Linked DNA regions of Homo sapiens. The protein of the gene in region 2 interacts with the protein of the main gene of each other region in a pairwise test. Each region holds a gene or a part of one and is shown on either strand. Other genes may lie near its edges.

Evidence for each region.
Region 1: the proteins of AIRIM (region 2) and LMO2 interact in binary tests that used the Homo sapiens proteins (3 or more experiments, as listed by UniProt).
Region 3: the proteins of AIRIM (region 2) and ZNF688 interact in binary tests that used the Homo sapiens proteins (3 or more experiments, as listed by UniProt).

Annotation. Positions count from the first base shown.
Region 1 is NC_000011.10:33,889,070-33,896,931, forward strand, and holds the start of LMO2 (rhombotin-2), read right to left. Parts: upstream 3,008-7,862; 5' UTR 2,726-3,007; intron 1-2,725. UniProt on the Homo sapiens protein: Acts with TAL1/SCL to regulate red blood cell development. Also acts with LDB1 to maintain erythroid precursors in an immature state.
Region 2 is NC_000001.11:37,681,070-37,687,552, forward strand, and holds the end of AIRIM (AFG2-interacting ribosome maturation factor), read right to left. Parts: intron 5,384-6,483; coding exon 5,204-5,383; intron 2,373-5,203; coding exon of another isoform or gene 2,369-2,372; coding exon 2,250-2,368; intron 2,092-2,249; coding exon 2,054-2,091; coding exon of another isoform or gene 2,013-2,053; 3' UTR 501-2,012; downstream 1-500. UniProt on the Homo sapiens protein: Part of the 55LCC heterohexameric ATPase complex which is chromatin-associated and promotes replisome proteostasis to maintain replication fork progression and genome stability.
Region 3 is NC_000016.10:30,569,219-30,576,491, forward strand, and holds ZNF688 (zinc finger protein 688), read right to left. Parts: upstream 2,497-7,273; 5' UTR 2,412-2,496; coding exon 2,216-2,411; intron 2,210-2,215; exon of another isoform or gene 2,007-2,209; intron 1,906-2,006; coding exon 1,792-1,905; intron 1,219-1,791; coding exon 698-1,218; 3' UTR 508-697; downstream 1-507. UniProt on the Homo sapiens protein: May be involved in transcriptional regulation.

The DNA of each region.
Region 1 (7,862 bases), on a different chromosome or scaffold from region 2:
TTTAATAAACAGAAATGGGGAAATTGAACAGGTTTGGGTAATAGGGGAAAGATGACAAGGTCATTTGGAGCTCTGCTCTTCTTTGAGTGCAGTGGGACCTCAGAGGCTAGGGGTAGCCATTTGAGCATCTCCTGTGTACCAGGCACTGTACTGGGCACCAAGAATTTAAAAATAAACAAGACACCGTCCCTACCCTTGAGGAGCTCACCAACTAGGGGTGAAATGTCCAGGACACACTCTCTGAGTTCCTAGGGCTGCAGCTAACCTTAGCCAGACCAGAGCACAGATGAGCTCGCAGCCAGACTCTCCAGGCCAGATACGGGCCAGGCAGCAGCATCCGTTCAACAGAATCGCTGAGCAGTTCTGTTGTGCCAGACAAAGCAGTCACACTAGAGATACAGAAGCAGGTCAGACAAGGGTCCATTCTCAGAAGCTCACAGCAGTGAGGAGGAAGCATCCTTCACTCATTTGTTCATTCATCTGTCAGCTAGAAAACAAGTACTTGCCATGTGCCAAACACTCCTAGGCTCTTGTTATAAAACAATGAAGAAAAGAGACATGATCCCTACATTCAAGGAACTTACAACCTAGTGGCGATGTGGAGAAAAGGAAACTCTTATACGCTGTTGGTGGGAATGTAAATTAGTACAATCTCTAGGAAGAACAGTATGGAGATTTGTCAGAGAACTAAAATTAGAACTACCATTCAATCCAGCAATCCCACTACTGGGTATCCATCCAAAGGAAAAGAAATAATTAGATACCTGCACTTGTATGTTTATCGTAGCACTAGTCACAATAGCAAAGATGTGGAATCAACCTAAGTGTCCATCAATGGATGATTGGATTTAAAACTGTGGTGTATATATATGCAATGGAATATTATTCAGCCATAAAAAAGAATGAAATCATGTCTCTCGCAGCCACATGGGTAGAACTGGAAGCTGTTATCTTAAGTTAAAAAAGTCAGACACTGAAAGACAAATATCACACTGTTCACTCATAAGTGGGAGCTAAATAATGTGAACACATGGCATTAGGGTATGGAATAATATACACTGGAGACTCAGAAGGGTGGGGGGAGGATGATGAGAAATTAATTAATAGGTACAATGTGGTGATATCAATCTGGTGATAGATATCAATAGATATCAATCTGGTGATAGATACCAATAGATATCAATCTGGTGATAGATACCTTAGAAGCCCTGACTTCAAGACTATGCAATTTACGCTTGTCACAAAATTGTACTTGTTCCCCATAAATTTATGTAAGTTTTTTTGTTTTTGTTTTTGTTTTTATGAGATGGAGTTTCTCGTCACCCAGGCTGGAGTGCAATAGTGCCATCTTGGCTCACTGCAACCTCCGCCTCCCGGGTTCAAGCAATTCTCCTCTCTCAGCCTCCCGAGTAGCTGGGATTACAGGGATGAGCCACCACGCGTGGCTAATTTTCATATTTTTAGTAGAGACAGGGTTTCACCATGTTGCCCAAGCTGGTCTTGAACTGCTGACCTCAGGCGATCTGCCTGCCTTGGCCTCCCAAAGTGCTAAGATTACAGGCGTTAGCCAATGTGCCCGGCCTGTAAGTTTTTTAAAAACCTAGAGGTGAGTAATTATAATAAGTGATATTATTATTATTATTACTCTTAACAACAATGACAATGATGACTGATGAGGGCTAAGTACCAGCTACTATCCAAGCACTTCCATGATTTATTTCTATTATTTCTCACAATGACCCTATGGGTACCCCTATATTACAAATGAGAAAACTGAGGCTGCCATCTTTCTAAGGTCTAAAGTGATTTTCTGGGAGCACAAACAAGAGCTTAATTAATTTTAACAGATAAAGACAGAAAAGGCTTCACAGAAGATTCACCTTTTCAGGGCAACCTAAAGAAGTATGGGTTGGTTTTCTTTAAGCTGAAACATTACGGCAAGAACCTGGAGTAATATCTGCTTCAAAGGGGAGTTATGCAAAGTCAACAAGAGAAGACGTGTAAAACCCAAGCACAGTACCTGGCACAAAGTAGATGCTCCCAAATCTTTGTTCCCCTTCATTGATCCTCTGTGATGGAAGGAACTTGTAGCCACTTTCCTCATCCGCCTTGGTTTTTCAAAAACACCCTTTGAAGTTATAACCTCCTTGGGAGCCAAGGCTTCTCTGAAGCACCCCATTACAATCTTTGCCCTCAACTCAGAACTGGAATGTGTTTGAAAATGCTAACAAGGGCAGCAGCCCCACCTCTTCGTCATTGCCTAAGGTTGTTAGGCAAACACACACACACACACACACACACACACACACACACACACACATGCACACACACTCACACAGTTGCTGGGGAGATCATGGTAAACACAAGCCTCTCTTTTGGATCAGAATAATTGAGTGGTCTCCCTTTGTGGCCAGTGTACAGGAACAAATTAGATGGGTAAATTAGCAGTTCCCGAAGACATTAGCAACCAGCGGCTCACACAGCAAGCGCCTGACTCACCGTGGGGCCTCTCCAAGTCACAGCCTATGAATAGATGCTCTTCCTCCCTCCGAAAGAGAAGCCAGAGTGCCCGGAACACCACAGGGGAAGCTTGAAGACTTGTACCCCTTTGGAGTCTTTTTATTTTAAAAGACCAATTTAATCACCACTTCTTCTGGCTCCTTGAAGATGAAAAAAGTTCCCTTGCAATCGTCCATTCATCAGAGAATTAATGAAGCCTACTCACCAGCAGATGATGTAATCCTGGTGGCTTCCCCCATCAGATCTAGGCTGCCTGCCCCACGGATACCTTCTGGGCTAATTGCCTGCTTTGCACCTGTTCCTTCTCGGGAGGCCCTGGCACCCTAGCACCTGGTGCCTGTGCCATCTCCCCTCTCTGCCAGGACACCCAGAGGCCCTTGTGAATAGCAAAGCCCACTTAACGGCTGAGGGCAGGTGGGGGTATTTCCTTCTCAATTCTGCTCAAGGCCCGTTGCTGTTCTTTGAGGATGTTGCAAATCCAGGGTTTGGAGGGCTGGGCCTCTTGGTGGCCTGGTTGTCTATCTGATAGGGCGGAGCCTTCACCCTTGCAGCGAGCTCTCTCACACCAGATGTGCTCTGCGTGGAATCCTAGGCCATCAGGGGATTCCTTAGCAAGCCCTGCAGGACCCAAATCCTAACTCAGACCCTCATCCTCCTACTCAGAATGTGGAGACTTGTGATCCTCAGTTTGGACGAATTCCAAGAGACCTTCCAATTCCCAGAGGCCATCTTTGGTTCTGTTCACACATAGCTCCCTCTCCCTCCTAGGCCTTCTCCCTTTGAATTTCTCCCCTACACCATCAGCCTGTATTTACTTCTCCTTCTTGCTTAATGCATGACTATATTATCCCAGTTAAGGGGGTCTGCAGGTTTTATCAGAAAGTTCAGAGGCTCACATGACCTGGATTGGAACTTGGCTCAGCCACTGACTAGCCAGACAAACTCAAATAACGTACACAGCTTCTCAGCACCTCACCCCCTCATTCATAAAAAACAGGGACAATGGTACCCACTTTGCAGGGTTGTTGAGTGGATTAAATTAAACAACACAAGGAAAGAGCTTTCCTAAGTTCCAATGCTATGTAACACACACAGTATTGTCTTACCCAGCAATAATTTCGGTGCACGGATCTGATCATCTCTTAATTAAATATTGAATTCTCCTAACACGGTTCTTTTTTTGAACCCCTCAGGGTCTGAACAGTTATAAGTGCACAGAAGTTGGGTCTTTATGAGCTGAATAAAAGGAGACTCCGGCTGTCTTCTCTTTTGTCCTTACCATAAAGCTCTTGTCAGCTGCTCTCCTGGCCCTGCCTCTGACCCTGGGCTTTGGGGCCACTATAGGCTCTCCTTTCCTTGTCCCCCTCTGAGTCCTGAAGTCCTGGTTTGCAATCTGCTGTTGCAGTTCTCTGGAATGGCTGCTTCCCCATGCGCCCCTGTCTGTCAGCTACCTCCCCCGCATGCATGTCTGTCTGCTGGGCAAGGCCCAATTCCGAGGTGACAGCTCACCGGGCCTCACCCACAAGTCTCTTCCAAGCATTAGCAGCCCACCCCAGTCCAAAGATATCTTTTATAGCTGATCTCTGGTGGCACCTCCTACCTTCCAATTAGGAGCCTGTCAACACCCAGGCCATCACTCTTCCTGCAGTGTCTGACAACACACACGCCTGCCGCGGCTGCGCCGGGAGAGTCAAGCAAAATTGTTTCCATGGTGGTGGTGGTGGCCTGAGCACAAGAGTTGAAATCTAGGTGAATCTGAATCTAGTTCTGCCTTCTCACTTTGCAAGGAGGTGTCTTATTTCTCTTTGAATTGGCAGCACCAAGCATCATGCCTGGCACACAGTAGGTACTCATAAATAAACACGTGTAAATCAAAAAGGCCGAAGATACATTGCTAGCTTGCAGACTCCCTTTCTCAATGTCTAATGATATCCAGTTCATTTCTTTCTCTTACATGTGCAAATCAGAAAGTTAGCTCATAACTCATCTGTTGTGACTTTTTCTTTCCTTTACTTTTGTGGTTGAAAATAAATTTACCCCAGAAAAGAGAGAGAGAAGGTGCCTGATTCCTTTGTCCTCCCTCTTCGATCCTCTCTAAATCCCTGGGTCATGGTAAGACTCTCTGAAATTCAGGGCCATTTTCAGACACTGGAGCCAATGAGGGAAGTATGACACAATCGAACATTTTTCTTATCTGGCAGTGTGGTCTGGTGGTTAGCATACGGGCTCTGCCAGTCGGAAGTCTGCCTTTCTATTTCTGGGGCTTAGGGGAAACCATGAAGCAACAGTCTTAGCAGCCCACTCACTCTTGCTTTCTCTTTCTCAATGTAAAATTGAGTTCACATTGGACCTGCTTACCCACAGCAGTCACCAGCTCAACCAGGGAAGGAAACGCACCACCCTGCTAGCCCTGCTTCAGCCTTGGGTGAGGCTGTGAAGGCTGGTGGTAAGCCGATGAAAGATAATCCAAAGAAATGAAAGTGAGGGTGATGAGTAGGAGAGCGGTTTGGGGCTGAGGGTACGAAGATGCCATGATGACTGACTTAACCACATCAAACTAAACCATGTCTCCTACTACAATTCACCAGCCTGAAATTGTGAGAGGATCTCGGGCGCGGAGATTTCGCTGGCTAAGGGGCACCCTGTGTGCCTACAAGAGGAGGTGGGAGGGAAGTTAACCTTGCGTTGTCCTCCAGGGCGCAAATCCAAAAGTGGGAAAAAGGGGAAGTTCTTTGATCTGAAGTAGAAAAAGTCGGGGAGAGAAGGAGAAACACCCAGAATGGCAACAAATTTGATGAAATCAGAGGGACAAAAAGAAGAGAAGGGTATTAAGATCAGATCTTCTGAAGGGCAGAGAACTATAATGACACAGTTGCTTTATTGCTGGACCCAGGACAGTTTATACAGCAGTTCGGAAAGGCCTCTTGAGGGGTTATCTGTGTCAGCCCAGCCTAGCATCGATAGAAACATGAATCTCTGGGAAATTATCTTGTGCCTCAGACTTCAAAGTACATAGAGATTTGAACAGCCTTGAAGTCGATAGGAAAACTTTCAGCATTTGATCAGTCGAATTATCCCACCATAACTCTGCAAGTTCTTGAGCCACATCTAGAAAGAACAAGGCAAGTTAGGGAAAAATCATCATTTAACATGTCATTTCTTTCCTCATTTCTACCCAAATGATCTTTAGGTCTCAATTCCTGCTCCTGTTGTCGTTTTTGCAACCAGGAAGCTGTGAGACCTTTGGGTTATCTTTAGAGTGAGACCCTCTAGAAGGTTTTAGGCCGAGCCTTGGGCTGGGTGATGAGATGGCATTGACTGTGGGCTGACTATTGCTTTGGAGTTGTGAGAATTTCCTCTCTGCAAAGGAGGTTCAAATACTATGTTTTCCCGGCTAATTGTTCATTATGCAGAGTGTCAGACTATGGTCAGAATATAGTGTTTTACAGGATCCCAGTGTTAATATCACAGAAAAGTCCAGCTGACATTATGTGATGTAGGGTGCTTTAAAAGAAAAAAAAAAAAAAACAGTTCCTCTGCAGGGGGCAACACTAAGAGAAGGATACTAGCTTTTTTTTTTGTTTTGTTTTGACAGAGTCTTGTTCCTGTCACCCAGGCTGGAGTGCAGCAGGGCGTGATCTCAGCTCGCTGCAACCTCAGCCTCCTGGGTTCAAGCAAGTCTACTGCCTCAGCCTCCCTCGTAGCTGGGATAACAGGCGCCTGCCTCCACGCCCGGCTAATTTTTGTATTTTTAGTAGAGACAGGGTTTATCCACATTGGCCAGGTGGGTCTCAAATTCCTGACCTCAAGTGATCCACCTGCCTCGGCCTCCCAAAGTGCTGGGATTACAGGCATGAGCCACCACGCCCCGCCAGGATACTAGCTTTGTGACATCAAAAATCTGGGTTTGAATTCCGTCTTGGCCCTTACTCAGGCAAGCCACTTACTCTCTCCTCCTCCACTTTTCATCTGCAGATGAGGATTACAAAACCCTCTTAAGGCTGTTGTGAGAATTTAATCAGATATACAATTAGTATAATCTCTGGCACATAGCAAGTTGTAATTTATTGCCCCTCTGTCCCAGAGTGCATGTGGAGACTTAATTTTTAAATATTAAAAACAAAGTTTTCACTGGGTTTCCAGTCTGTTGATGTTTATGGAGAGAAAGCTTTCAACTGACAAACGCTATCCAAGTGACAGAGCCCATTTCAGCATGGCGACTAAGGCTGATGATGTTCTGCTCTTAAGTGGAGATCAGCAAATGTTAAACAGGAGCCCCACCTGCTCTACCAGACAGCAGCAAAGTGCTTGTCTCATTTTCTTTCCAACATGTTACCATCCTTGTGTAACAGACAAGGTAATTTAAGCTGGGTCTAGACATGTCTGAACCAGTCTGGAGGGCCAATAGGACACCCTCCCTTCCAGACCTAATTACTTGCAGGATCAAGGAGCCTCTCAGAGAACAACATGTCCCATGGAGAAGCAAAGTTGAAGGGGCATTTGTTTTATTCAAGAACAACAGGAAATAGCAGAGGAAGAACAGCTCTCGGACCCCCAGTGGAGTCCTAGAGCAAGAGAGCTATAAGAGAGGGAGTGAAAATTGAATCAAAGGCTTTTCACTGAGATATCTGGGGAAGAGCAAGACACAAAGCTCTGGGGCCAGCTGCTTGGCTGTGAATAAAGATGATGGCACGGGTGGCTTCAGGGAATGGTGCCCTAAGGGCCAGTTTCGATGACCTTGGTTTAGGCAGCATCACTCACCTTTGAGGTCATTCACACTTACACATTCATTCATTCATTCATCTAACACATTTATTGAGTGGCTGTTATGTGCCAGGTGGGGCATCAATGCCTTTGGTGTGGAAATGAGTATCCTTGATACATGTGAATCCACAAGAAACATTCCTGGGGATTTGCTCCCAAAACTATTTGTAAAGGGGCAAGGAATGTGACAGATCTAGCGCCCCCATAGTGCAGGAGCCAGGGGAATCCACCAACTCCGGCCTGGTCACCACCTCTGCGACCCTGTTTTTATCTGAAGGCGTGTGTGGTCTGGGACCTGTGATGCTCATCTGTAAAATGAATTGGCTTGACTGCATGATCTCTAAGATCTGTATTTTATTGAAACTTCTACAGATTGAAACTCTAAGTCCTCATAATAAGCAATAATGAATCATGAACTAGACATTTTGAAAGCAGCATATATTACTTTGTGATCCAGCTTAACTGCTTGAATTATCAGTGTCTGAAATGATCCCCATCCCTCATTCCTCCCCTTTATCCTCTCTATGGTAGGATCAGGCACGACATTGCTTCAGCCCCTTCTACCATGTAGATTTACA
Region 2 (6,483 bases):
AGGGTAAAGGCAACAAGCACAATGCCTGGCACACAGCTAGCTTTCGTCAAGTGTTGGCTTCCATCCTGCCTCAAACATGGCCTTTGTTTAGATTATCCCCTGTGCATGGAATGCCCCGCACCCCTCTCCTAGCCCCAGGTAAAATTCCCTTCAAGGCCTACCTCAAATGTCACTGTCATCAAGAAGGAGTTCCACAGGCAATTAGTTATCATCTCTATTCTCCCACAGCACCTGTTTTTACCTTAACTATAACACTTTTATTATTGTATTACAACTTAAGTCTCTGCAATCCAAAGTCTGGTCCTTGGACCATTAGCTGAGACTTCGTTTGAAATGCAGAATCTGGGCCCCATCCCAGACCTACAGAATCAGAATCCAAATTTTAACAAGATATCAGTGACTTATTTGCACATTAATCTTTCCCTGGTGGAACTGTGAGCCTTTCTAGGGCTCTCTTTTATTTCTGTCCCCAGAGCCCAACATAAGACTTGACACTTAAATGCTTTTTAAGTTTTATTTGCAATACTTATATGATAGATGTTTTTTAATTCCTGGAAAAATAAATACACATTATTAATAATAGTTATCTGGTAGATGGATAACGGTACATTTCTATGTAACATTTTCATTTTTTGTAATCAGAATGTATTACCTTTACAGATAGGCAAACACAAAGATTTGGGAAAATGCATGTAAAATCTAAGAAAAAAGGTAAATTGTAGATATAATACATTCACAAAAAGAATATAACTGTGTTGAGCTATATTTACAGATATAAAAAGATGAACAAATTACATTAGGTTTTTTAAAAAAAGACAACCTAACAGTATGTATCGATGATAGCACGTTTGTTCTTTAAAAAAATTTGTGAATTGGTCAGGAGCAGTGGCTCATGCCTGTATTTCCAATATTTTGGGAGGCTATGGTGGGAGGATCCCTTGAGCTCAGGAGTGAGCTGGGCAATATAGTGAGACCCTATCTATATTAAAAGAAAAAATTTGTAAATAGACACTGAAAAGGTATCTATCAAAATATCTCTAATGAAGTTTGTTTTACAATTTTCTACATTTTACATTTTTTCTAGTTTTCCTATGATCTTTATAAAAGCTTATCACTTATAAGAAAAAAAGTTATTTTCATTTTTGAAAAATATCTATACCCTTTACTAAGTCCCTTTACATTCAATGACCAAGATTCCCACAACACTCTGGGAAGCTGAAAGATCTGAAAGTAACACGGCCATTACATAGATGAAGGCAGCAGACCTTGGAAATGTAACCCCGATGGACTGACTCTGGGCTGGCATTCTCCCACCCCTGCGGCTACTCCAGACTCAGAGGAATGTGGCAAGTCAGATGCCAGCTTTGGCCAAAAAAACTCCTGTCATTTTAGGAGTCTCACCATGCCCAGTTACTTCCTCTGAGATGGTAACAGCAATAGGGGAACACTTCAAAGACAAAGCATTCAGAATGATTCATGCTGCACCACCTCCCCCTGGTGGCAGGTTCTGGAAATTGGCTTGAGGATAACTATTGCAATTGGTCAAAATTTTTAAAATATATTTTCTGTCAAAATCACCCTTATTTCTTTAAATCATCAAAACCACTTTTTCTTTTGTCAAGGATTCAGGTATTGACAAAAGACACAAAACCAGGACCTGGTGTCAACCAGACAATGCTTTGGATGATGCCAAGGGCAGTGTGGCTCTTTGCCTCTTGTCCTTGCTTCCCCACCTCTTTAGGTCCACAATAGAGGAAAGACACTATGTTCTTCAGCACCGTCTTTCCTGTTGTCTCTCTAGCTCCATCCACTTCCCTGAGCCTCAGAAAAGGGCAAGGCATGGCTCACATACTCTCAGCCACGGCCTGGCATGCTGCAGCTCCAAAATCAGACATCTAGGCGCTAATCCTCCCCAAGACCCAGTCCTAAGGTTCAAGGCACTGATGTTTCAAATATGTCAGACTGAAATACTGACGTTTCTTTAGAAACATCAGGGTTCAGAATGTCAGTCTTCAACTGTGGTACCCGTGGTCTCCAGATACGCATAGCTTCCTTACTCTTCCAGGAAGAAGGAAACATTCAATAGGATATCTGAAATAGGAAGACAGAAAAAATGGCATTATCACCTCTCCCGAGAACATAAAACACACAGAGGCACAGCAAGGGCACCTTCCTAATGCTTCCAAAGAGGCGAGCCACAGGGAGAGAAAGGAGGAGAGGAGACACAAAGGAAGAACACAAACCAGTACCTTGTACAAGATCTTGGTGTTCGTCTTTTGAAATTCGGTCCCAGGCCTTGGGCAAAGCTTGTATGTTTGCCAAGTCTCCCCACTGGATAGACGAAAGAAGATACTTTCTCTTCAGGTACCTTTCTGGAAGTTAAGGACTGCTCAAAAGAAAATGCAGTATGCTGAAGTGAAAAAAAACACCCTGGTGAGAACCAGAGGGAGCCATAAAAGTGAAAGTGCAGATATCCTTACATTTTACCAGGTGGGCCTGATTCACCTATGCTACAAATATTTCCTGAGCAACTGTTTACTAACATGGCTTTGTGCTACAGGGAAAGAGGAATGAAACCATCCCTGAAATCTGGGATCTCAGCATGGTGAGGACAAAATCAGATCCTGAAAAGAAAGAACAAAAGGGACATGAGAGGTAAAGCTAGCGGAGGTTCAGAGGATAAATACATCCAATTCAGAGGAAGCAGGGACACCCCAGCTGGTAGGAAACATGAACAAAGGCACAGAGGTGGAGATGCATAGAATGAATTCAGGGAAAGCAAATCTTCCAGTCTGCTCAGCATGGACGCCACATGGAGAGCAGTCAGAAAGGCTGAAAGGTGGGCTGAGCCAGAACAGAAAGAACACCAAGTACCAACGCAGGGCTCTGAACTTTATCCCATTAGCAACAGGAGCTATTCCTATACAGTACAGAACAATTCTGATCCTAACTATCAGGATCAGAACCAGACTTCCTGCAGATATAGAGGTCATTCATTGGAGTCAGCTTAGAAGGAAAGAAACTAGACAGAGAAAACTGTCAAGAGGCAATTAAGAGTCCAAGTGAGAGCTAAGAAGCCATGTAAGCAACAGAGGGGATGGGGACAGAGAGGGAAAATCAAAGAAGCACCAGGGAAACAGAAGGAAAGGACTTGACAAGTGACTGTGTAAACATTCTAGCACATAGCAAGTGCTTAGTAATGTCAGCCGCAGCTCTTGCTCCTTCTGCCCATGCTCCTGTTGCTGTTACTACTACTGCTACCAATGCATTTAAAAGGGAAAATAAGCCGGGCGCGGTGGCTCGAGCCTGTAATCTCAGCACTTTGGGAGGCCTGAGGTCAGGAGTTTCAGATCAGCCTAGCCAACATGGTGAAACCGCCTCTCTACTAAAAGTACAAAAATTAGCCAGGCGTGGTGGCAGGTGTCTGTAATCTCAGCTACTTGGGAGGCTGAGGCAGGAGAATTGCTTGAACTCGGGAGGTGGAGGTTGCAGTGAGCCAAGATCGTGCCATTGCACCCCAGTCTGGGCAACAAGAGCAAAACTCTGTCTCAAAAAATAAATAAATAAAAGAGAAAACAGGGTGGGTTCTACGACTCAAGGAAAAGGGGGCTGAATTTGAGGGCTAGATTGAGGAGTTCAATTTTAAACTTGAGTTTGCAGTTCTAAGAACAATCCAGTTGGAGGCATCTGCAGGAAACCAAAAGTCAAGACCAGAGACAAGAAAAGTTGGGGTTTGGGAATTATTCACATGAAGGCAGAAACCTAAGCTAGAGGCTAAAATCAGGTGTCAGACAAGAATTGAGAGAAGACCAGGCATGGTGGCTCACACCGGTACTCTTAGCACTTTGGGAAGCCAAGGAGGTAGGATCATCAAGGCCAGGAGTTCAAGACCAGCCTGGTCAACACAGCAAGACCCCATCTCCTAGGCAAAAAAAAAATTTTTTTGAGAGAAAAATGTTAGAGCTTCAACTAACTGGTCTTTCTGCTTTTACCCTTGCCCCCACTACCCCAAATCTTACCCTAGAACGAAGCCAGAATGATACTGTTAAAAACATAGGTCTTATCCTGTTACTCCTTAATCAAGTTTCTAAGAGGTTTTTCTGTCACTCGAATGCTTTTTTTTGGGGGGGGGGGGTGGGCGGGGGGTGGTTTGAGACAGGGTCTTGCTCTGTCACCTAGGCTGGTGATCACACCCAGGCTGGCAATCAAGGCTCACTGCAGCCTTGACCTCCCACGCTCAAGCAACCCTCCCACCTCAGCCTCCTGAGTAGCTGGGACTATAGCTGCACACCATCATGCCTGGCCCAAAATTCTTTTTTTTTTTTTTGGAGACAGAGTTTCACTTTATCACCCAGGCTGGAGTGCAGTGGCACGATCTCAGCTCACTGCAGCCTTGACCTCCCCCAGTTCAAGCAATCCTCCAGCTTCACCCTCCCGAGTAGCTGGGATTACAGACTTCAGGCACATACCACCATGCCTGGCTAATTTTTGTATTTTTTGTAGAGACGGCGTTTCACCATGTTGCCCAGGCTGGTCTCAAACTCTCGGGCTCAAGCAGTCCTCCCACCTCAGCTTCCCAAAGGGCTGGGATTACAGGTGTGAGCCACCACGCCCAGACCCCAAATTCTTTCAAAGACCTTCAAGGCCCTAGAAAGTCGAGCCCCCTGTCTTTCTACCCTCACCTGCTGTTAGGCTCCTCCTCATGCTCCAGTCTAGCCTCCTTACTATTTCCTGAATAGACCAGGAATGTTCTTACCACAAGGCCTTTGCATTTGATGTTTCCTCTGCCTAGTAACTTTCTCTCCCCAAATAGCCACATAGCTCTTTCCCTTACCCTCTTCAGATCTCTGCTCAAATATCACTTTCTCATGAAGCCTGCTCTGACCACCCTATTTTAAATCACAACTCCACCCTCACTCCTCACTTTCCCTGCTTTATTTTTCTCCATAACACTTATCGCCATTCAGCATTCTACTTGCCTTTTTCAATGCCTGTCTCTTTGCACCAAGAACAGTGCCTGACAGGTAGTAGCTACTCGATAAATTATTAGAGGAAGGATTATACAAAGGAATGCAGGAAGAATCCAAGTTCAGGAACCAAAGAGAACTGACTCAAACTACTTAGTTTTCCAATCTTGTGAAAACTGAAATTTGAAAGACTTAGAACAGCTCTGGCTGTGACCTGAAATGTGTGCAAAGGATACGACTTTCGATAATGTCTCTCAATATCCTGCAACCATTCCAACATGTCAGCCACAGAGGGGCTCACTGCTGAAGGCTGCAGGACAGCATCAATGCCAACTGTGTCTGCGTGTTGCTCATAGATCTGAAACACTCGCTCCACATGGCTGCTGACCATGTCTCGCACCTTGAGGAGGATGGCTCTGCAAGAAAGAGTCTGACATTAGGCAATATCATGAGACATGTATAAAGGAAGGTTTCTCAATTTTGGCACTACTGATATTTTGGACTACATGATTCTCTGTTGTGAAGGGCTGCCCTGTACATTGTAGGACGTGTAGGAGCATGCCTGGCCCCTACCCACTAAATGACAGGTGTAAACTATACCTATACCCTCCATAAGCCATAACAACCAATAATGCCTCTAGATGATGCCAAATGTCCCCTCATAGAAAAACCATCTCCAATTGAGACCACTGGTCTAAGGAGATTAGTGACAGTGTCTTGGAGGTACGGGTGGCTCAAGAATCAAGAAAGGGGCTGGGTGCAGAGGCTGTTGCCTGTAATCCCAGCTTTGGGAGGCTGAGCGGGGTGGATCACCTGAGGTCAGGAGTTTGAGACCAGCCAATGTCCCAAAACCCCGTCTCTACTAAATATACAAAAATTAGCCAGGTGTGGTGGTGCACACCTGTAGACCCAGCTACTCGGGAGGCACGAGAATCACTTGAACCCAGAGGCAGAGGTTGCAGTGAGCCAAGTTCGCGTCACTGCACTTCAACCTGGGTGACAGAGCGAGACTCCGTCTCAAAAGTGTGTGTGTGTGTGTGTGTGTGTGTGTGTGTGTGTGTGTGTGTGTGTGTGTATAGTTTTTGTTTTTGTTTTTTGTTTTTTTATTGAGATGGAGTTTCGTTCTTGTCGCCCAGGCTGGAGTGCAATGGTGCGATCTTGGCTCACCACAACCTCTGGCTCCCGGGTTCAAGTGATTCTCCTGCCTCAGCCTCCTGAGTAGCTGGGATTACAGGCATGCGCCACCACACCCGGCTAATTTTGTATTTTTTTTTCAGTAGAGACGGGGTTTCTCCATGTTGGTCAGGCTGGTCTCGAACTCCCGACCTCAGGTGATCCACCTACCTCGGCCTCCCAAAGTGTTAGGATTACAGGCATGAGCCACCGTGCCCAGCTAATATATATTTTTTTTTAATTAAAACATTTAAAAAAAAAAACAGGTGCAGTGGCATGCCTGTAATCCCAGTAGTTTGGGAGGGCAAGGCCAGAGGACAGCTTGAAGCCAGGAATTTGAGAC
Region 3 (7,273 bases), on a different chromosome or scaffold from region 2:
TCCCACCTCAGCCTCCCAAGTGGCTGGGACCACAGGCACGATGTGCCACTATGCCTGGTTCATTTTTTTTTTTTTTTTTTGTAGAGATAGGATTTCACTATCTCTAGATAGTGATATCCTAGATATCTAGATATCGCTAGATAGCCTGTTGCTCAGGCTGGTCTGAACTCCTGGACTCAAACGATCCTCCCTCCTTGGTCTCCCAACAGAGGCTGGATTTGTGCCACCTGCATCTATTCTACTCCCATCCACTCCAGTGTCTGGGTCCCCTGCTGATGACAATTAGCCAGGGTTTGACCACGCCCTCCATGTAGGTCCCCTCCCCAGGCCCTGGTCCCCCTCAGCATCTGCATCTGAAATAGATAAGGAGTGGCTAGTTCCTGAGATGATATAAAGGTCTCTGTTGCACCTGATCTTCAGATAACACTTTGAAATGAGTCCAGGGTCTCACTCTCTTCTTTTTTTTTTTTTTTTTTTTTTTTTTTGTTAAACAAAAGACTGGGGAGATGGGTGGCAAGTCTAATCTATTCGAATCTTTACAGGCACTTTTCTTTTTACAAGTTGGAAACTTGAGGGATCCTTGAGGAAAGCCCAGGGCATGAATTTCAGTTCCGGAGTCCCCGACTCAGTGGCCCACCTCAGGGATCCGTCAGTCCTTCGTGCCAAGGTCAGGCTCAACTCCAGCCTGCGGTGCCGCTCAGCCGCACTCCTCGAAGATGTCTGGGTAGTGCCGGAAGAGCACAGGCGGGTCCCGGTCACCTCGGACGGGGGCCCGAGGCACAGCCCGGATCCCAGGCCTCCGGCCCCGCCGCCCCCCGGAGCAGGAGCGGTGGATCCACTGGTGCGCTTCCACTGCGAACTTCCTCTTGAAGCGCATGCCACACTCGGGGCAGGGGAAAGGCCGCTCCCCCGAGTGCATGCGCCTGTGGCTGACCAGCAGTGAGGGGTAGGTGAAGCGGCGGCCGCAGTCCGTGCACACGTGGCGCCGCTGGCCGGCCTGAGCATCCATGCTGGGTATGGGTGCCGGGGGCTGTGCTCCTGTGGTCGGGTCCCAGGCAGCATTTTTGGGTGGCTGTGCCCGTGCCGGGGCCACGCTAATAGCTGGGTCAGGGTTGCGTTCCACCAGCACTTCAGGACTCTCCTTCACAGGAGCCTTTCTAGGCCCTTTGGCTCTTGGGACTTCCTCCGGTTCCTCTTCCTTCCTGTTTGGGACATCTCCTGGGAAACCGGAATTAAGTTACACTTACAAACACTTTTGCACAGACTGTCTCAGGTTATAGAATGCTTTTCACTTAAGGCAGTGAGGGAAGTTCTGTCCAGTGATTAACACACAGGCTTTAGAACAAGGTAAACAGGATTCAGATCTCCTAAAAGTGCCTTATCTGAGCCTTGGTTCCTTATGCATCAAATGGGAATAATAATGGCTTTTGACTTCACAGCGTTACTGGTTTAGCTGAGTAGATGCATGTTAAGCACTTAGGAAGTGCTCAGGAAGCAGGGGCTATTATTTATTTATTTATTTATTTATTTATTTATTTATTTATTTATTTTTGAGACGGAGTCTCACTCTGTCACCCAGGCTGGAGTGCCTGGTTGGACTGGGCTCCCAGTCCTCACAGGACCGCTGTCCCATGTTCTGAAAACTTTGTACCAGGTCTGCCTTCTTTACTCCTCTAGTACCCAACACAGTTGAATTTCTTTAGGGATGCTGGAAGTGGGGGCCTGAAAAGAAACTCTGCTAGACAGGAAGCCCTGGAAAACCAAGTGGGGGGACCCGGGACTATCCCTCACCTCTCCGAGCTCCTCCCAGTCTTTCCCCCTTCTCAGGATCCTGGGCGGCGGGGCTCCAAGCCTCACTCTCCTGTTCCATCCAAGAGATGAGGGCTGGTTTGGGGCCTGGGAATCCTGGGAGAGAACAGGGATCACAGCGCGGGCCTGAGAGGCCATCGTGGGAAGATGGCATTCCCCTCCAGGCTGAGGGCACCCCCTCGGAGCTTATACTCAACCTGGAAGGGGCTGCAGTGCTGCTGCCTGAATGAAATGGATGCGGGTGAAAACACTCCCGAGGGGGTACCTGAAGCCCTGGGAACGGGAGGTGGCTGCTGGTGTTGGTGCAAGAGTGCGGGATTAGGGCTCACAGTCCTCTCGGCCCTTCTACATCATCTCCCCTGTGAACCCGGTGAAGGAGGAGGGGGCTCGGACCCGGGGCTCTCACCGAGCGCGCCCAGGTGGCCGTAGGTCTCCTGCATCACGTCCCGGTACAGAGCCCTCTGCGCGGGCCGCAGACAGCCCCACTCCTCCGGGGAGAAGTACACGGCCACGTCCGCGAAGCTCACAGTCCCGGGCTTCCTGCAACCAGGCCGGGTCTCCCCGGGCCTCGGCGCCAGGAGCGGGGCTGGGGGCGGCGCCATGGGGCCTCGCAGCCCCGATCGGCGGCCGCCAGGTCCCTGGAGCCGCCGCCTCCCCGCTCCCGGCCTCAGCTGTCGTTGTCCACAGGAAGGGCGGCCCCGCCCAGCCGTGGCGTCCGAACGCAGCCGAGGCAACCGAAGTAGCAGGGACTGGCTGCTAGGGATTCGAGGATTCTGATAGGGACAAATATAATTCCTCAGTGTTTATTCACTTCATGGCCGCTTGGACATAGACACCCGGGTTAAGGGACCCGGAAGGTGCCTTCTGAAAATATGGCGACCACCCTTCAATTGTCACAGGCTGCTCTTAAGGGCGCCATTATTTGACCATATCAAATATGGAGCCTTTCTGACTTCTCTGGCCTCATCGTCCCACTTGCCCTTAAATAAAGCCGCTTCGGCTGCTTTTTCTAGTGGGGGAGGCGGGGTGTCTGGGAAGTAGAGGAGAGGCTTCTTGCCTTCAAGAAAGATGTAAGGGCCCGAAGCTTCACTTACCCCTCTGTACCCGCAATACGCAACGGCCGATGATTGGCGACGATCCCGGAAGAAGCTGCGCGGTGATTGGCCTGGGACTGGCGGGGCATTTGAAGGGACCCCGCGGTCCTGAAGCCTCTGTTGACAGACTGGAGCGCAGCGGAGACCTCGGCATCTGCGGTGCTCGGGATTGTGTCCCCTACGGTCTCTTACCGTGCCTCCCGATGGCGGGAGCTGGAATTTGGTCCCCAGACCCCTTGGGAAGACGCGCACACCCTGGCAAACCATGTGTACACCCGCGGTAGAAGCAGGTGCGTGTTTTACAGTAGCTTAGCTGCGGAGTCCACCCAGCCCCTGGCATCCGCAGCTCGGCTCGCTCAGGCTCTAGACCGAAGCTGCAGGCGAAGGAACGTGCTTGGTGAGGATGGAATCGGAATGGGGAAGTTTTAAATTAAATAGTAATTGTTGCTAACATACATGAATTTATTTTTTGTTTGTTTTGAGACAGGGTCTTGCTCTGTGGCCCAGCAGTGCGATCCTAGCTCACTGCAGACTCGACCTCCCGGGCTGAAGCGATCTTCTCACCTCAGCCTCCCGAGTAGCTGGGACCACAGGCGCACACCCAATGCTTGGCTAATTTTTAAATTTTAAAACAGAGACAGGGTCTTGCTATGTTGCCCAGGCTGGTCTGGAACTCCTGGCCTCAAGCAATTCTCCTGCCTCGGCCTCCCAAAGTGCTGTGATTACAGGCATGCGCCACGGTTCCCAGCCATTTCTACTTTTTCTTTGAGAAGGAGTTTTACTCTTGTTGCCCAGGCTGGAGTGCAATGGCGCTATCTCGGCTTGCCCAGGCTGGAGTGCAATGGCGCTATCTAGGCTCACCGCAACCTTCGCCTCCCAGGTTCAAGCGATTCTCCTGCCTCAGCCTCCCAAGTAGCTGGGATTACAGGCATGAGCCACCATGCCCGTCTAATTTTGTATTTTTAGTAGAGACGGGGTTTCTCCATATTAAGTCAGGCTGGTCTCGAACTCCCGACCTCAGGTGATCCTCCCGCCTCAGCCTCCCAAAGTGCTGGGATTACAGGCGTGAGCCACGGCGCCCGGCCCTGCCATTTCTACTTATTTACGTTGTTCCAAATTATCAAAGATAGCATCAACTTTCAAATCCTAATTTTTTTTTTCCTGGGAAACCTTCCTCCTTTAGCCTTCAGTCTCCTCTCTAAACTGGGTTGGGCCTCAGTTCTTCTCATACCGGGTCTCCCCTTCCTGCTGTCCTGGGTTGTATCTTCCGCTTCCTAGATTTAAGGTCTTTATTTTTCAGCCAAGATGGGTCATCCTCATGGCTGGTGGCATTGGACTGTAAATACTAGTTGCCTTCATCCCCACATTTGGAATATACCTGCAATCATACAGGATGCAGAATACTGTTTGCTAAGCGTGGGGCTGGTTGCTGGAGATAACAAGCAAGGCCTACCAGGTCCCTGCTGTCATTCTGGCTCTGGATCTACTTGCTTGGCTCCCCTGCCAGCCCTAGTATATCGAGCCTTCCTTTTTATTCAATAGTGTTTTTTATTGCTGACTTTTCAGTCAAGATTTCTTTGTGTTTTCTGGCCTACCCTTGCTGTTTTTCACCTGAAATGCTTTTTGGCTTTTAGTGTGACTCCTGCTGATCTCATATGCATATGTTATTAATTGATTAATTATTAATTGTTAATAATTAAATATTATTAATATGCTTACATTATTACCTTGAGTTCTGGAACTGCCTCACTGCACTCCATGTGGTGAATACTGTAGAAATTATATAAGGAAAAATATATCCTTAGAAATGAGTATTTTTTAAATTTTGAAAATATTTAATTTAGGCCCAGCCCAGTTGCTCACACCTGTAATCTCAGCACTTTGGGAGGCTGAGGTGGGCAGATTGCTTTAGGCCAGAAGTTAGAAACCAGCATGGGCAACATGCTGAAACTCCATCTCTACTAAAAATACAAAAATTGGCCAGGTCTGGTGGTGCACACCTGTAGTCCCAGCTACTCAGGAGGCTGAGGCACAAGAATTCCTTGAACCCAGGAAGCAGAGGTTGCAGTGAGCAAGATCATGCCACTGCACTTCAACCTGCGTGACAGAGTGAGACCCCGTCTCAAAAAGAAAAAAAAATTGGGCTGGGCACAGTGGCTTGTGCCTGTAATCCCAACACTTTGGGAGGCCAAGGCGGGAGGATCACCTGAGGTCAGGAGTTCGAGACCAGCCTGGCCAACATGGCAAAACCCCGTCTGTACTAAAAATACAAAAATTAGCTGGGTGTGGAGTCGGACGCCTGTAGTCCCAGCTACTCAGGAGGCTGAGGCACAAGAATGGCTTGAACTCAGGAGGCAGAGGTTGCAGTGAGCCAAGATCACACCATTGCACTCCAGCCTGTGTGACAGAGCAAGACTCCATCTAAAAAAAAAAAAAACAAACAAAACAAAAAATATATTGATACACAAAATTTTTACATATTTATGGAGTTCATGTGATATTTTGCTTTTCTTCATACATAGAATGTACAATAATCAAGTCAGGATATTTAAGGTATCAATCACTTTGAGTATTTAACATTTCTATGTGTTGGGAAAATTTCAAGTCCTCTCTTCTAGCTATGGAAATTTACAGTACTTTGTTAACTACAGTCACCCTACTCTGCTATTGAACATTACAAGTTATCCCTTCTTCCTAAGTGTATGTTTGTACCCATTACCCAACTTCTCTTCATCCACCTCTCCCACCCACGTACACCCTTCCAATCTCTGGTATCATTCTACTCTCTACCTCCATGAGATCAACTTTTCTAGCTCCCACATGTAAGTGAGGACATGTGATATTTGCCTTTCTGTGTCTGGCTTATTCACTTAACATAATGACCTCCAGTTCCATCCATGCTGTAAACATGATTTCATTTTTTATGGCTTAAGTCCACTGTGTATATATATCATATTTTCTTTATTCATTTGTCCCCTGATCAACACTTAGGTTGATTCCATATCTTTGCTATTGTAAACACGGCTCTACAGTAAACACGGAGATGCAGGTTATCTTTTTTATATACTGATTTCTTTTCCTTTGGATAAATTCCAGGTAGTGGGATTGCTGGATCACATGGTAGTTCTTTTTTTTTTTTTTTGAGACGGAGTTTTGCTTTTGTTGTCTAGGTTGGAGTGCAATGCCCTGGTCTCGGCTCATTGCAGCCTCTGCCTCCCAGGTTCAAGTGATTTTCCTGCCTCAGCCTCACAAGTAGCTGGGATTACAGGCACCCTCCATCACACCCAGCTAAATTTTGTATTTTTAGTAGAGAAGGGGTTTTGCCATGTTGGCTAGGCTATTGTGAACTTCTGACCTCTGGTGATCGACCAGCCTTGGCCTCCCAAAGTGCTGGGATTACAGGTGTGAGTCACCATGCCCAGCCCACATGGTAGTTCTGTTTTTGTTTTTTTCAGACATCTCCATATTGTTTTCAGTAGTGGCTGTACTAACTTACGTTCCCACCAACAGTGTGTAGGAGTTCCCTTCTCTTTTTTTTTCTTTTTTTTTTTGGAGAAGGAGTTTCACTCTTGTTGCCCAGGCTGGAGTGCAATGGCACAATCTTGGCTCACCACAACTTCTGCCACCAGGGTTCAAGCGATTCTCCTGCCTCAGCCTCCCAAGTAGCTGGGATTACAGGCGCGTGCCACCACTCCTGACTAATTTTGCATTTTTAGTAGAGATGAGGTTTCTCCATGTTGGTCAGGCTGATCTTGAACTCCCGACCTCAGGTGATCCACCCACCTCAGCCTCCCAAAATGCTGGGATTACAGGCGTGAGCCACTGCGCCCAGTCAAGAGTTGCCTTCTCTTAGCATCCTTGCCAATACCTGTCATGTTTTGTCTTCTTAATAACAGCCATTCTAACTAAGGTACGATAATATCTCATTGTGTGCTTTTTTGTTTTTGAGTCAGTCTCGCTCTGCAGCCTAGGCTGGAGTGCAGTGGCGCAACCTCAGCTCACTGCAACCTCCCCCTCCTGGGTTCAACCGATTCTCCTGCCTCAGCCTCCTGAGTAGCTGGGATTACATACGTGCACCACCATGCCCAGCTAATTTTTTTGTTTGTTTGAGATGGAGTCTCGCTCTGTTGCCCAGGCTGGAGTGCAGTGGCGCGATCTTGGCTCACTGCAAGCTCCGCTTCCCGGGCTAACGCCATTCTCCCGCCTCAGCCTCTGGAGTAGCTGGCACTACAGGTGCCCGCCACCACGCCGGCTAATTTTTTGTATTTTTAGAAGAGATGGGGTTTCATTGTGTTAGCCAGGATGATCTCGATCTCCTGACCTCATGATCCACCCACCTCGGCCTCCCAAAGTGCTGGGATTACAGGCGT